Linked DNA regions of Homo sapiens. The protein of the gene in region 1 purifies or fractionates together with the protein of each later gene. This does not show direct contact. Each region holds a gene or a part of one and is shown on either strand. Other genes may lie near its edges.

Evidence for each region. The genes of interacting proteins can lie anywhere in the genome.
Region 2: the proteins of OR10H3 (region 1) and IRGQ purify together in Homo sapiens (affinity purification with mass spectrometry; 2 studies listed by BioGRID and IntAct, with this or other methods). This does not show direct contact.

The regions. Positions count from the first base shown.
Region 1 is NC_000019.10:15,735,961-15,741,452, reverse strand, and holds the start of OR10H3 (olfactory receptor 10H3), read right to left. Parts: upstream 3,469-5,492; 5' UTR 3,402-3,468; intron 72-3,401; 5' UTR 61-71; coding exon 1-60. UniProt on the Homo sapiens protein: Odorant receptor.
Region 2 is NC_000019.10:43,589,130-43,594,183, forward strand, and holds part of IRGQ (immunity-related GTPase family Q protein), read right to left. Parts: intron 4,239-5,054; coding exon 2,897-4,238; 3' UTR 1-2,896. UniProt on the Homo sapiens protein: Autophagy receptor that specifically promotes clearance of misfolded MHC class I molecules by targeting them to the lysosome for degradation.

The sequences.
Region 1 (5,492 bases):
GAAGGCTGAGAAGCCAGAGAGGATAAATTCAGATATGGTTCTGTAGTTCTGACCAGGCATGGATACTGTATCTGGTGAGATCAGAAACAAAATTAAGTGACAGTGGTTAAAACTTAGACTCTAGCACAGACCAAATGGAAACCCAACAGCTCTATGCTATTCAACAACTGGTGGAACTTTCTGGGTCTCACTTTCCTCATCTGTTAAATGGAGTAAATAATAATAGTTCTTAACATTCAGCAATGTGACAAAGATCAAACGAGATCAATATATTAGATGACCAAGTCAGATGTTGGCTACTAATTGGGTTTCCATTAACACTGACTAACATAAAGAAAAGTTTCAATACTTGGAGCCATTAGAGACAGGCATGGATGATCAGGGTCAGATTCCCCTGAAAATGTGCCAGTTCTAGAAAACATTTATTTTGATCTTGAGCCTTAAATTTTTGTTCCCCAAGAGTCTTTGTCTTTTAATTGCTTATTTAACCCGTTTACATTTATTTTAATACTCATTTATTGATACTCATTTATGCCATCTTATTTCAAATTACACATTTACTATTCTAATAAATCTGAATAGAAAATTCAAAAATAAAAGGATGGGTAAATATATGTCTGAAGAATATGCACCAAATGAAAGCTGAGGCTGCAACCTTAATAAAAAAGTGGAATTTAAGGAAACAATGATCGCAAGGTCTCTAATACAATACACCTCTACAGGGAAGTAGAGTTCCTTAACACATGGCTGATCTGTGGTCTGGACATGGAAGAAAGCCTTGGACATCTTCTACCAGTGTAAAATGAAATTTTCACTAAGTAATGGGATAATATTAAAAGCCTGCAGGTACCAGATTGAAAAGATGCCCACTAGTCAAAAACAATAATCATTGTACAGAAGATGGAGGAACAAGCTAAATTATATAATGAGAAAGCTTTCAGAAAAATCCAGAAGGTGGATAATTCCACAGAACAATTGGTCTGGTTTCACTGATAGAGGTATATTGAAAGGATAAGAGAGATTCCAGGACATAGTAACTGGATGCAACATAGGGGACTAGTTGAATCTTGATCTACATAACCAGCTGTAAGTATTTTAAGGCAATAGAGAACATTTTGATTACAGTATGAATGAATGATTACGTATGAGTAATATTAAAGCATTATTATTGATCTAATTGTGAATTTTTTAGAGACAAGGTCTCACTCTGCCCCCTAGGTTACAGTGCAGTAGTAGGATCATGACTCACTGCATCCTGGAACTCCTGGGCTCAAGTTATGCTTCTTCTCAGTCTCCTAAATAGCTGGACTACAGATGTGTGCCACCTCACCTGTCTAATTAAACATTTTTTTTTTTTTTTTGTAGAGACAGGGCTTTGCTTTGTTGCCCAAACTGGTCTCTAATTCCTGGCCTCAAGCAATCTTCCTGTCTCAGCCTCCCAAAGTGGTGGGATTATACACATGAGCCACCATGCTCAGCTAATTATTTTTGTAAGTGTTATCTGGTTATTTTGACTATGAAGGTAAATGTTTAGTTTTTCAATGCATACCAAGATTTTTACATCTCACACACACACACATGCACACACACTAAGGGACAGAGAATAACATTTATACCCATTAAAAGAACATAGCAAACAGCATCAATACTATAAATCCATGTAACTATATATCCTGGAATATTCATTAACAAATAATCAATACAACTTCAGTGAGATAGATAGAAATAGCCAAATCGACGGCAGATTGATTATTTTTTTTTTGAGACGGAGTCTTGCTCTGTCACCCAGGCTGGAGTGCAATGGTTCAATCTCGGCTCACTGCAACCTCCCCTTCCCAGGTTCAACTGATTCTCCTGCCTCAGCCTCCCTAATAGCTGGGATTACAGGCGCGTGCCACCACGCCTGGCTAATTTTTGTATTTTTAGTAGAGGCAGGGTTTCACCATGTTGGCCAGGCTGGTCTCAAACTTCTGACCTCAGGTGATCCGCCCACCTCAGCCTCCCAAAGTGCTGGGATTACAGGTGTGAGCCACCACACCTGGCAGATAGATTATTATAGTTAGAAATTTTAACAGAGTTCAGAAATGCAATTTATTAATTATTAATTACAAAGCAATTAATAATATCCAGACATTAGCTATTATATATATTAGACTCTTCACCAAAAAGAAAATTAACACTCTTTCAACCACTCAGCGACTTTTACAAAAATGGACATTTCATTAGAATATAAAAATTTATTTAATTCCAAAGCATAATAATATGATATAGATTATAATGAATTAACATTAAAAATCAATAGGGAAGAAATAGCTTTACAAATCTCATGTGTTTGGAAGATAACTATATAATTAAATAATCTACAGTTTCAACAGTAAATCATAAAATGGAGGAATATTTAGAATTAAATGATAATTTAAATATTGAATGTCAACATTTTAACCTAAAATAGTACTTTGAAGGAAATATACAGCTCAAAATACCTTTATCAAAAAACTGCCTCAAGAAAAAAATCATGCATAATAAAATCAAAATCAAGTTATTGGAAAAAATTAATAAGATAAACAAGGAGAAGGTACCAATAACAGAACCCAAAATTACAAATGGGAAATAATTACAGAGATAATTGATATTTTTAAATTAATAAAAATAGTAAAAGAAATAACAAATTTACATTGTAGATGAAATGAACAAGTACTTAGAAAAATATAAAATTCCAAAACTGGTGCAAGAAAAAAGGGGATGCTATATGCTCAAATAAGCTTTAAAGAAATTGAAACGGTAGTCAAAGATCGTCTCTCTAAAATCTTTGCCCCAGTGGGTTTTATTAAAGTGCGGTAAGTACTATTAAACTGTTAAAAAAAAAAACAGTTGGTTAGAATCTTACACATGATCTTCAAAAAAATAGAAAAGAGTTAGGAAATCTGACAAACACATCTCCTCAAGTTAATGCAATCTTTGTCTAAAATCAGGCAAGAATCTTCACCGAGAAAAAGAGACAATTATAGGCCTACTTCACCTATCCAGGCAGATTTAAAATTCCAGAATAAAACATAACCTATTCAAATCTAATGGTGTATTAAAAATAGTTTACCATGATCAAGTGGCATTGGTTTATTCCATAAATGACAAGATTGGTTAACATCAGAAAACCTATCATACAATTTATCACAGGAATCGATTTAAAAAGAAAAATCATGATTATTTCAATCAAGGCATAAATACATTCTCTAAAACCCTACTCCTATTATGATTTAAAAAAAAACACTTCACAACACAAAATCCAAGGAGACTTTCTTAACTAGATATAGAATATATAGCACAAATTAGCAAATACAACACTGAAGAAGAAACTTTTCCATGCATCACTTTAGAGTCAAGAAAAAGCCAAGGATACTCACTAATTCCGCTGTTCTTTAACATGGAGCTGAAATTCGTGAGTGATGGTATAAGGTAAGGGAAAGAAACAAGTTATCTAAGGTATCTAAGGACTGGAAGGGAAGAGACGTGATCATCTACCTAGAAAAGATGAAAGAATGATGACATCATGTATTAGAACAGCAACAGAGCCCAGTGATGCAGAAGGCAAGGTCAGCTGGCAAAAACCCCAGTGATCCTCCTAGTATCACACCAGTAACAAGCATTCAAGAAGTATAATCTGAATACAGAGAAAGAGAACAGTCCCAATAGCAACACAAACTATTAATATAAAGAAACATCGCTCAGGATCCCTTTACACCTCAAAGTTACTAAGCACTCTAAAGGGCTTTTGTTTATGTGGTTTAGAACTATCCATTTTTACCATATTGGAAATGAAAATTGAAAATTATTAAAAATATTTAGTTATTAGTATATTTAAAAAAGCATGCCCAGGCACGGTGGCTCACGCCTGTAATCCCAGCACCTTGGGAGGCCGAAGTTTGTGGATCACTTGAGGTCAGGAGTTTGAGACCAGCCTGGCCAACATGGTGAAACCAGGTCTCTACAAAAAATACAAAAATTAGCTGGGCATGGGGGCACGCGCCTGTAATCCCATCCACTTGGGAGGCTGAGCCAGAGAATCACTTGAACCCGGGAGGCGGAGATTGCAGTGAGCCGAGATCATGCCACCGCACTCCAGCCTGGGCAACAGAGTGAGACTTCGTCTCAAAAAAAAATTTCTAAAGAGCAATAGTAAGTCTATTGAATGCTAATATGGGAAACATTTTCAGGCAAATAATCACATTAGGAAAAAAGCATTTCATGAGAAGAGTGGCCTTGTTTGACATTTTAGCCAATACCTCATATGTCCTAGCTTGGCAGGAAACAGCTTGATGGTTTCATCTGCCTCTTCATTCAGTCTGTGGCAATATATTGAAGCATATGATGAAAATATATTCTCACATGTAAATTTGAAAAATAAGGATTTCAGGGACCACTCTGCAGAGGTCCTCATGTCACACTTTGAAAAAATCTGCTATAAAATATCTAGGAATTAACCAAAAACATGACATAGCTCCAAAGAAAAAATTTTAAATACATACTAATAAAAATGTAGAAGATGATCTGAACACATGGGGAGCAGTATAGAGTCTTGGCTGGGATGGCCTGATGTGCTAATGGTGTCAATTCATCCTCAAATTATAACCTCAATACTTAATAATACTCAATAATATAATATTGTATTATATTTACAATTCCAGTGAATCAACTGTAAATTTGATAAAACTATTTGAAAATTCCTTCAGAAAAATAAATATCAGGCCAGGCACGGTGGCTCACACCTGTAATTTCAGAACTTTGGGAGGCCGAGCTGGGCAGAACACTTGAGGTCAGGAATTCAAGACCAGCCGGAGCAACATGGCGAAAGCCCGTCTCTACTAAATATACAAAAATTAGCCAGGTGTGATGGCCCACTTGTAATCCCAGCCACTTGGGAGGCTGAGGCACAAGAATTGCTTGAACCTGGGAGGCGGAGGTTGCAGTGTGCTGCCTGGGTGACAGAGTGAGACTCTGTCTAAAATAAATAAATAAATAAATAAATAAATATGGAATCAAGGGAAGAGCTGTTCCCTCCCACGCGCTGAGACACACAATAGAGTCATAGTCATTTTTAAAATTATGAAACGTGGAACAGACCTAGGTCTGGGTAAGTCGATTGGAAATCTCAGAAAATAACCCTGCATTATTCAAAACCTAATATAGTACACGATAAATGTACTGGCACAAATCAAGAGGAGAAGGTAGGTTGTTCACCCATTGTAGTGAGAAAACTGCTCATTTTATGAAGCAAGTCAATCCGAATTTCTGCCAAACTCTACATACAAAGGAGGATCCAGATGCATTCAAGAAATAAATACCAAATATCAAGGTGTAAATTTAAGAGAAGAAAGTATAGGAGAATAACTTTGTGATCTAGGCTTGAGGAAAGACTTCCTAAACAAAATTTCCAAAGCACAATCATTAAGATGATTTTTAAAACATTAAAAAAATCAACATTGAGGATTTCCATT
Region 2 (5,054 bases), about 28 Mb from region 1:
ACTGTCCAAGTAACACACAGTGACAGTGGCAAAGTCGTGCTTGCTTCCCAGGTCCCTGACCTCAGACAAGGGTGTTCTCTCCCATTAAATGCTTTTTTCTCCTCATCTTGCTCCATTTTCCTATCTTGTGGCAAGAGATTAACAATCTAAATTCCAATCCTAGTTCTGACACTGACCAATGAAATAAACATTTAGGCTGGGTGTGGTGGCTCACACCTGTAATCCCATCAAGGCAGGAGGATCACTTGAGGCCAGGAGTTCAACACTAGTGTGGGCTACAAAGCAAGACCCCCGTCTCTACAGAAAATTTGGTGCTGTGTACCTATAGTCCCAGCTACTCTGTAGGCGGAGGTGGGAGGATCGTTTGAGCCCAGGAGTTGGAGATGGCAGTGAGCCATGATCATCCCACTGTATTCCAGCCGGGGCAACAGAGCAAGACCCTGTCTCTAAAATAATAATAATAATAATAAATATTTACGAAGCACCTATTGTGTCAGGCACCTATTGTTCTAGATGCTGGGGAAACAACAGAGAACAGGACAGGCAACGGGTCAAAAGCCAATAAACAGGTAAATAAATAAGATCATTTTTGACAGTAATAATTGCTACAAGGAAACTCAACTGGCCGAAATGAATAGTGGGGGAATGTGAGCTACTTCAGATAGGGTGGTCAGGGAGGGGAAGTCCTCTCTGAGGGGATACGTGAGCTGAGATCTGACTGAGCCCGTCACAGGAAGGTTTGAGAGTAGAACAGGAAGTTGTGAGTAGAGCCTTGAAGGAAAGAGAACAGCAGGTGCATGGGTCCCCAGGCAGGACTCAAGGTAGCCACTCAGGCATCAGAAAGAGTCAGGCGGCCATGATGGCTCACACCTGTAATCCCAGCACTTTGGGAGTCTGAGTCGGGTGGATCACCTGAGGTCAGGAGTTCGAGACCAGCCTGACCAACAGGGTGAAATCCCTTCTCTACTAAACTACAAAAATTAGCCAGGTGTGGTGGCACATGCCTGTCATCTCAGCTACAGTCATCACATCCCTGTACTCCAGACTGGGTGACAAGGTGAGACTCCATTTCAAAAAAAAAAAGAAGGAAAGTCTATCAGGCTGGACAGGAGTGGGAAGGGGCAGTGAATGAGAATAGGCAAGGGCCAGACCCACAGGGCCTTACTGTGTGCTGTTGGGCCTCAAGCCTGCCCTCTCTGGACTTTGCTCTTTCTGTCTACGACAAAAGGGATTCTATCGCTTGGATTCTCAGATCCTCCTTTTCTGTTTTTGACACTGAAGAATTCTGTAACCTGCAACTTTTCCCCCACATGTGGCTAGCAGCCTAGAACATTCCAGGCACTGTGGTTTCTGCCTTTGCTTCATTCACTCCTGGCATATTCCCATGGTCTCAAGTGCCTGACCACCCATTTGGTGGGCCCCTGGCTCAATGCAGCACCCTCTATGTACATCAGAAAGCAGAGCCTCTTGGGGATACCCGAGGTGTCCATACAGAAGTGTTTGGACCAGTGCAGCAGTACAGCTGCTCTTCTGAAAAGGAAGGTGCACAAAACACCAAGGCCATAAAGGGTTATGGTTAAATACCAGGAGAAAAAGGCCAAAAAAAGATAGAAACTCCTAAAGAAAAGAGACAGAGAAACAGACTCCCCAGAGATCACCTGAATTGCTCAGCACCTAGAAGATGAAGGCAGTCATATCCCTTCCCAGTCACACTCACAGAGGCAGTTGCCGGGATCCCAATACAAGGTTTGGAGGAGCTGTCTCTGAGGTATGCTTTACTGCCCTTCCACACCCAAAAGACCTCATTCCTGGTCCCTGGCTACTCCCAGAGCCCACCATGCCCAGACCTCTTACCCACCTCACCTCATTTTTGTGGGACCACCCTCCCTACATGCTTTTGGAGGGCAATTATAGAAACCCATCCACTCCCCAGGAGAGATCAAGAAGTCTCCAGCTTTCTCGCACAAGCCCCCGATCCCTCCTCCAGATGCAGACCTCCCCTTACCCAATATTTAGGAACCAAGGTCCACAGCCATCTTAGAACCCCGGAAGTCTCAGACCCCAGGGGCCTCCGCCACCCCATCAAGATTCAAAGCCCACTGCTCCTTGGGGACCTGTGTGCAGGCTTTTTCTCCCAGAGAAATGTAGACCCTGTTTCCCTCTGAGGCTCTGAAGCCCAAGAGTTCCAGCTCCCTGGGGCGCTCAGGTCTCCCTCCCCTATACTGGAGTTCAGGTCCCAGTCATGGACACCTCCCCACCAATTAGGAAACAGGACTTCTACCAGCCTCCCTGGAGGACTAAACATCCAGTAACTCCAGTTTCTACTCCCTAGGAGACAAAGACATAGTCCCTGCTAGAGTCTGGGCCACCAACTCCCTTCAGGACAGAAGGGTCTAGATGTCATTCACCATGGTTCCCAAAGGTATCAGGATTCCTGGCCAGGGGCGGTGGCTCACGCCTGTAATCCTAGCACTTTGGGAGGCCGGAGCGGGTCGATCGCCTGAGGTCAGGAGTTCGAGGCCAGCCTGGCCAACATGGTGAAACCCCGTCTCTACTAAAAATACAAAAATTAGCCAGGTGTGGTGGCAGGCACCTGTAATCCCAGCTACTCCGGACGCTGAGGCAGGAGAATCGCTTGAACCCGGGAGGCGGAGGTTGCAGTGAGCCGAGGTCGCGCCATTGCACTCCAGCCTGGGCAACAAGAGACTTCGTCTCACAAAAAAAAGAAAAAAAAAAAAAAAAATCAGGATTCCTGTCCCCCAGACTCTCTGAATCCAGGTGATAAGAAGTCACACATCCCAGCTGGAAGTCAAGAGTCCACATCCCCTTCAAGCACCCAGGATTAAGCCCAGGCATCCCCTGTCAGAGTCTGGACTCCCAAGCCCCCTCCCACTCCTCACTGGGCAGGCTCAGGGGGTGCCAGCACAGCCTCAGCATCAGCCCGCATCTCATCGAGAGCCTGCAGCAGGACGCCGTGAGCCGCTCGGTAGCCCAGGCCACCTGTCGCCGCTGCACCACCCGCAGGCCACAGGAAGGAGAGAGCCCCCAGTGCTGCGCCCCCAGCAGTGCCCTCGCCCGCCCAGGCGCCCAGTCTTGCTTCCACCTCGGCGCGCGTCACCGGGCCTGGGAAATGAGCGCGCGCTGCCAGCTCTCCAGAAGCCAGGCCCAGGGCACGCTCACGTCGAGCCAGTGCCGTGGGTTCCAGCCCCAGGCCCCGTCGCCACTCCGCCAGCTGACCCCGCAGAAGTGCCACGTCGCATGCCCAGCCCAGCCCTGGGAGTGGTGCCGCCGCCGCCGCCAGACTAGCCAGCAGAGCTGGCCTCCACGCCCCGGCTCGCAACGCCGCAGCCTTGGTTCGGGCAGCGCTGGGAGATGCTGGTGGCAACGCCAGCAGCAGTGCCCCTGCCTGGGCTGGGGGGAGCGCTCGCCGCAGCCATTCGCATAGCCCTGGGAGTCCGCCAGGCCGTAGGGGGAACACTGGCGGCGGCGCCTCCTCCAGCACCTCCCACGTCTCGTCCTCCGGGCTTAACGCAGCGGCCCGCTCTGAGTCGCCACCACCTGATTTCTTCATGCCGACAACCTGCTGCAAACCCTCGCTGCCAGCTTTCCCAGGACCTTCCCCGCTGCCTGCTTTCTGCGATCCAGCGCTACATTTCTCCCTTCCCTTACTGAGTGCATTCTCCAATCCCCCTCCACCTGCGTTCTTTAAGCTCTCGCCCTTGGGATTCTCCATCTTGCCTTCTCCCAGACACTCCGGATCCTCGCCCTCGCCGTCTGTGCGCACGCAGACAAGAGGCGCATCTGGTAGCAGCAAGGCCTGGACCTGGGCCCAGTCCTTCTCAGTGGGGGCCCCAGGGGTGACGAGGATGAGGGCGTCGTAGTGCGTTGGGTGAGAGGCGGCGGCCGCGGTGGTGGCAGTGCCCGTGTGGCCCAGAGGCACGGTCCAGAGCACCACATTCGGGCGCTCTGGGGCTGGGAAGGGAGTGGGTGCTGTGGGGACCGAAGCAGGCGCAGCGCCTGGGTCGCCAGGATCCAATCCAAGCAGCATGTCCACCACAAGGCCCACGTCAGCCTTGCCAGCCACGGCCAGGTCTAGCCGTGCGCTGCCCAGGCGCTCCAGGCCTGAGCGCACCCACGACAGCGCAGCCTCAAGGCCGCCGGTCTCAAAGGCCTCACGCACAGCCTCTAGCTCTGCTGCACCCAACACCTCGAAGCCATCCTGCGCCGGTGGCAGGAGCCTGTGGGGACAAGAAGGGACAGGGTCAAAGGTAGAAGAGGGGCTGGGTGACATGGACTGGGCTATGATGACAAGGGCAGAGCTTTCCTAATGATCCCAGAATGGGGCAGGGGTAGGAAAGGGAAGGGCCAGACTGATGGCACAGCAAATAGAAACCAGATAGGGAGAGGCAGTGATGATATGGGTGGGGCTTCAAGCAATAATGGAGTCTTGATTATTGGACGGGTGGACATAAGGTCAGGTTTCCCACCCCAGCCTAAAATGGGGATTGGGCTAAAACTTCCATGGAATACAGTATTTGGGGGCGGGGTTTTTCCAAGGGTCGGCTGTGCTGGGTGGGACAAAGCTCACAGAGGGTGGGGCCTAGAACAAAGAATCGCAACTGTATTGTGGCCTAAACACAAGTCCAGCACTATTTGAGACAAGGTCCCCAAGGGCACTCTTTTCAGGGGCTGGGCCTAAGGAGGGTCAGTGAGGGGAGAAATCTCATCTACCAGTTCTTACCAAGGGGGAGTGGCTAAGGTGACTCCCGGGCAGGTGAGGCTAAGGAAAAAAGATGACAGTGTACTGGGACAAGGGACTGTCCCTCTCTGAGCCTCGTTTTAAAGTCTTTAAAATGAGGAGGCTGGCAGGTGGTAGAGCAAATCCAGGAGGTAGCCAGCAAGTGGGCACAGAAACAAGAGGGAGCTGGAGAAAGGAGGTAGATGAGGATGCCCCAAAATAATAAAGCTCATTGCGGGTGTGGCTTTAGGTGCTTGAAAACAAAACTGATGGTGGGGAGGGCTCAAAGATTAGAGTTTTCAGGTAAAATCTTCCA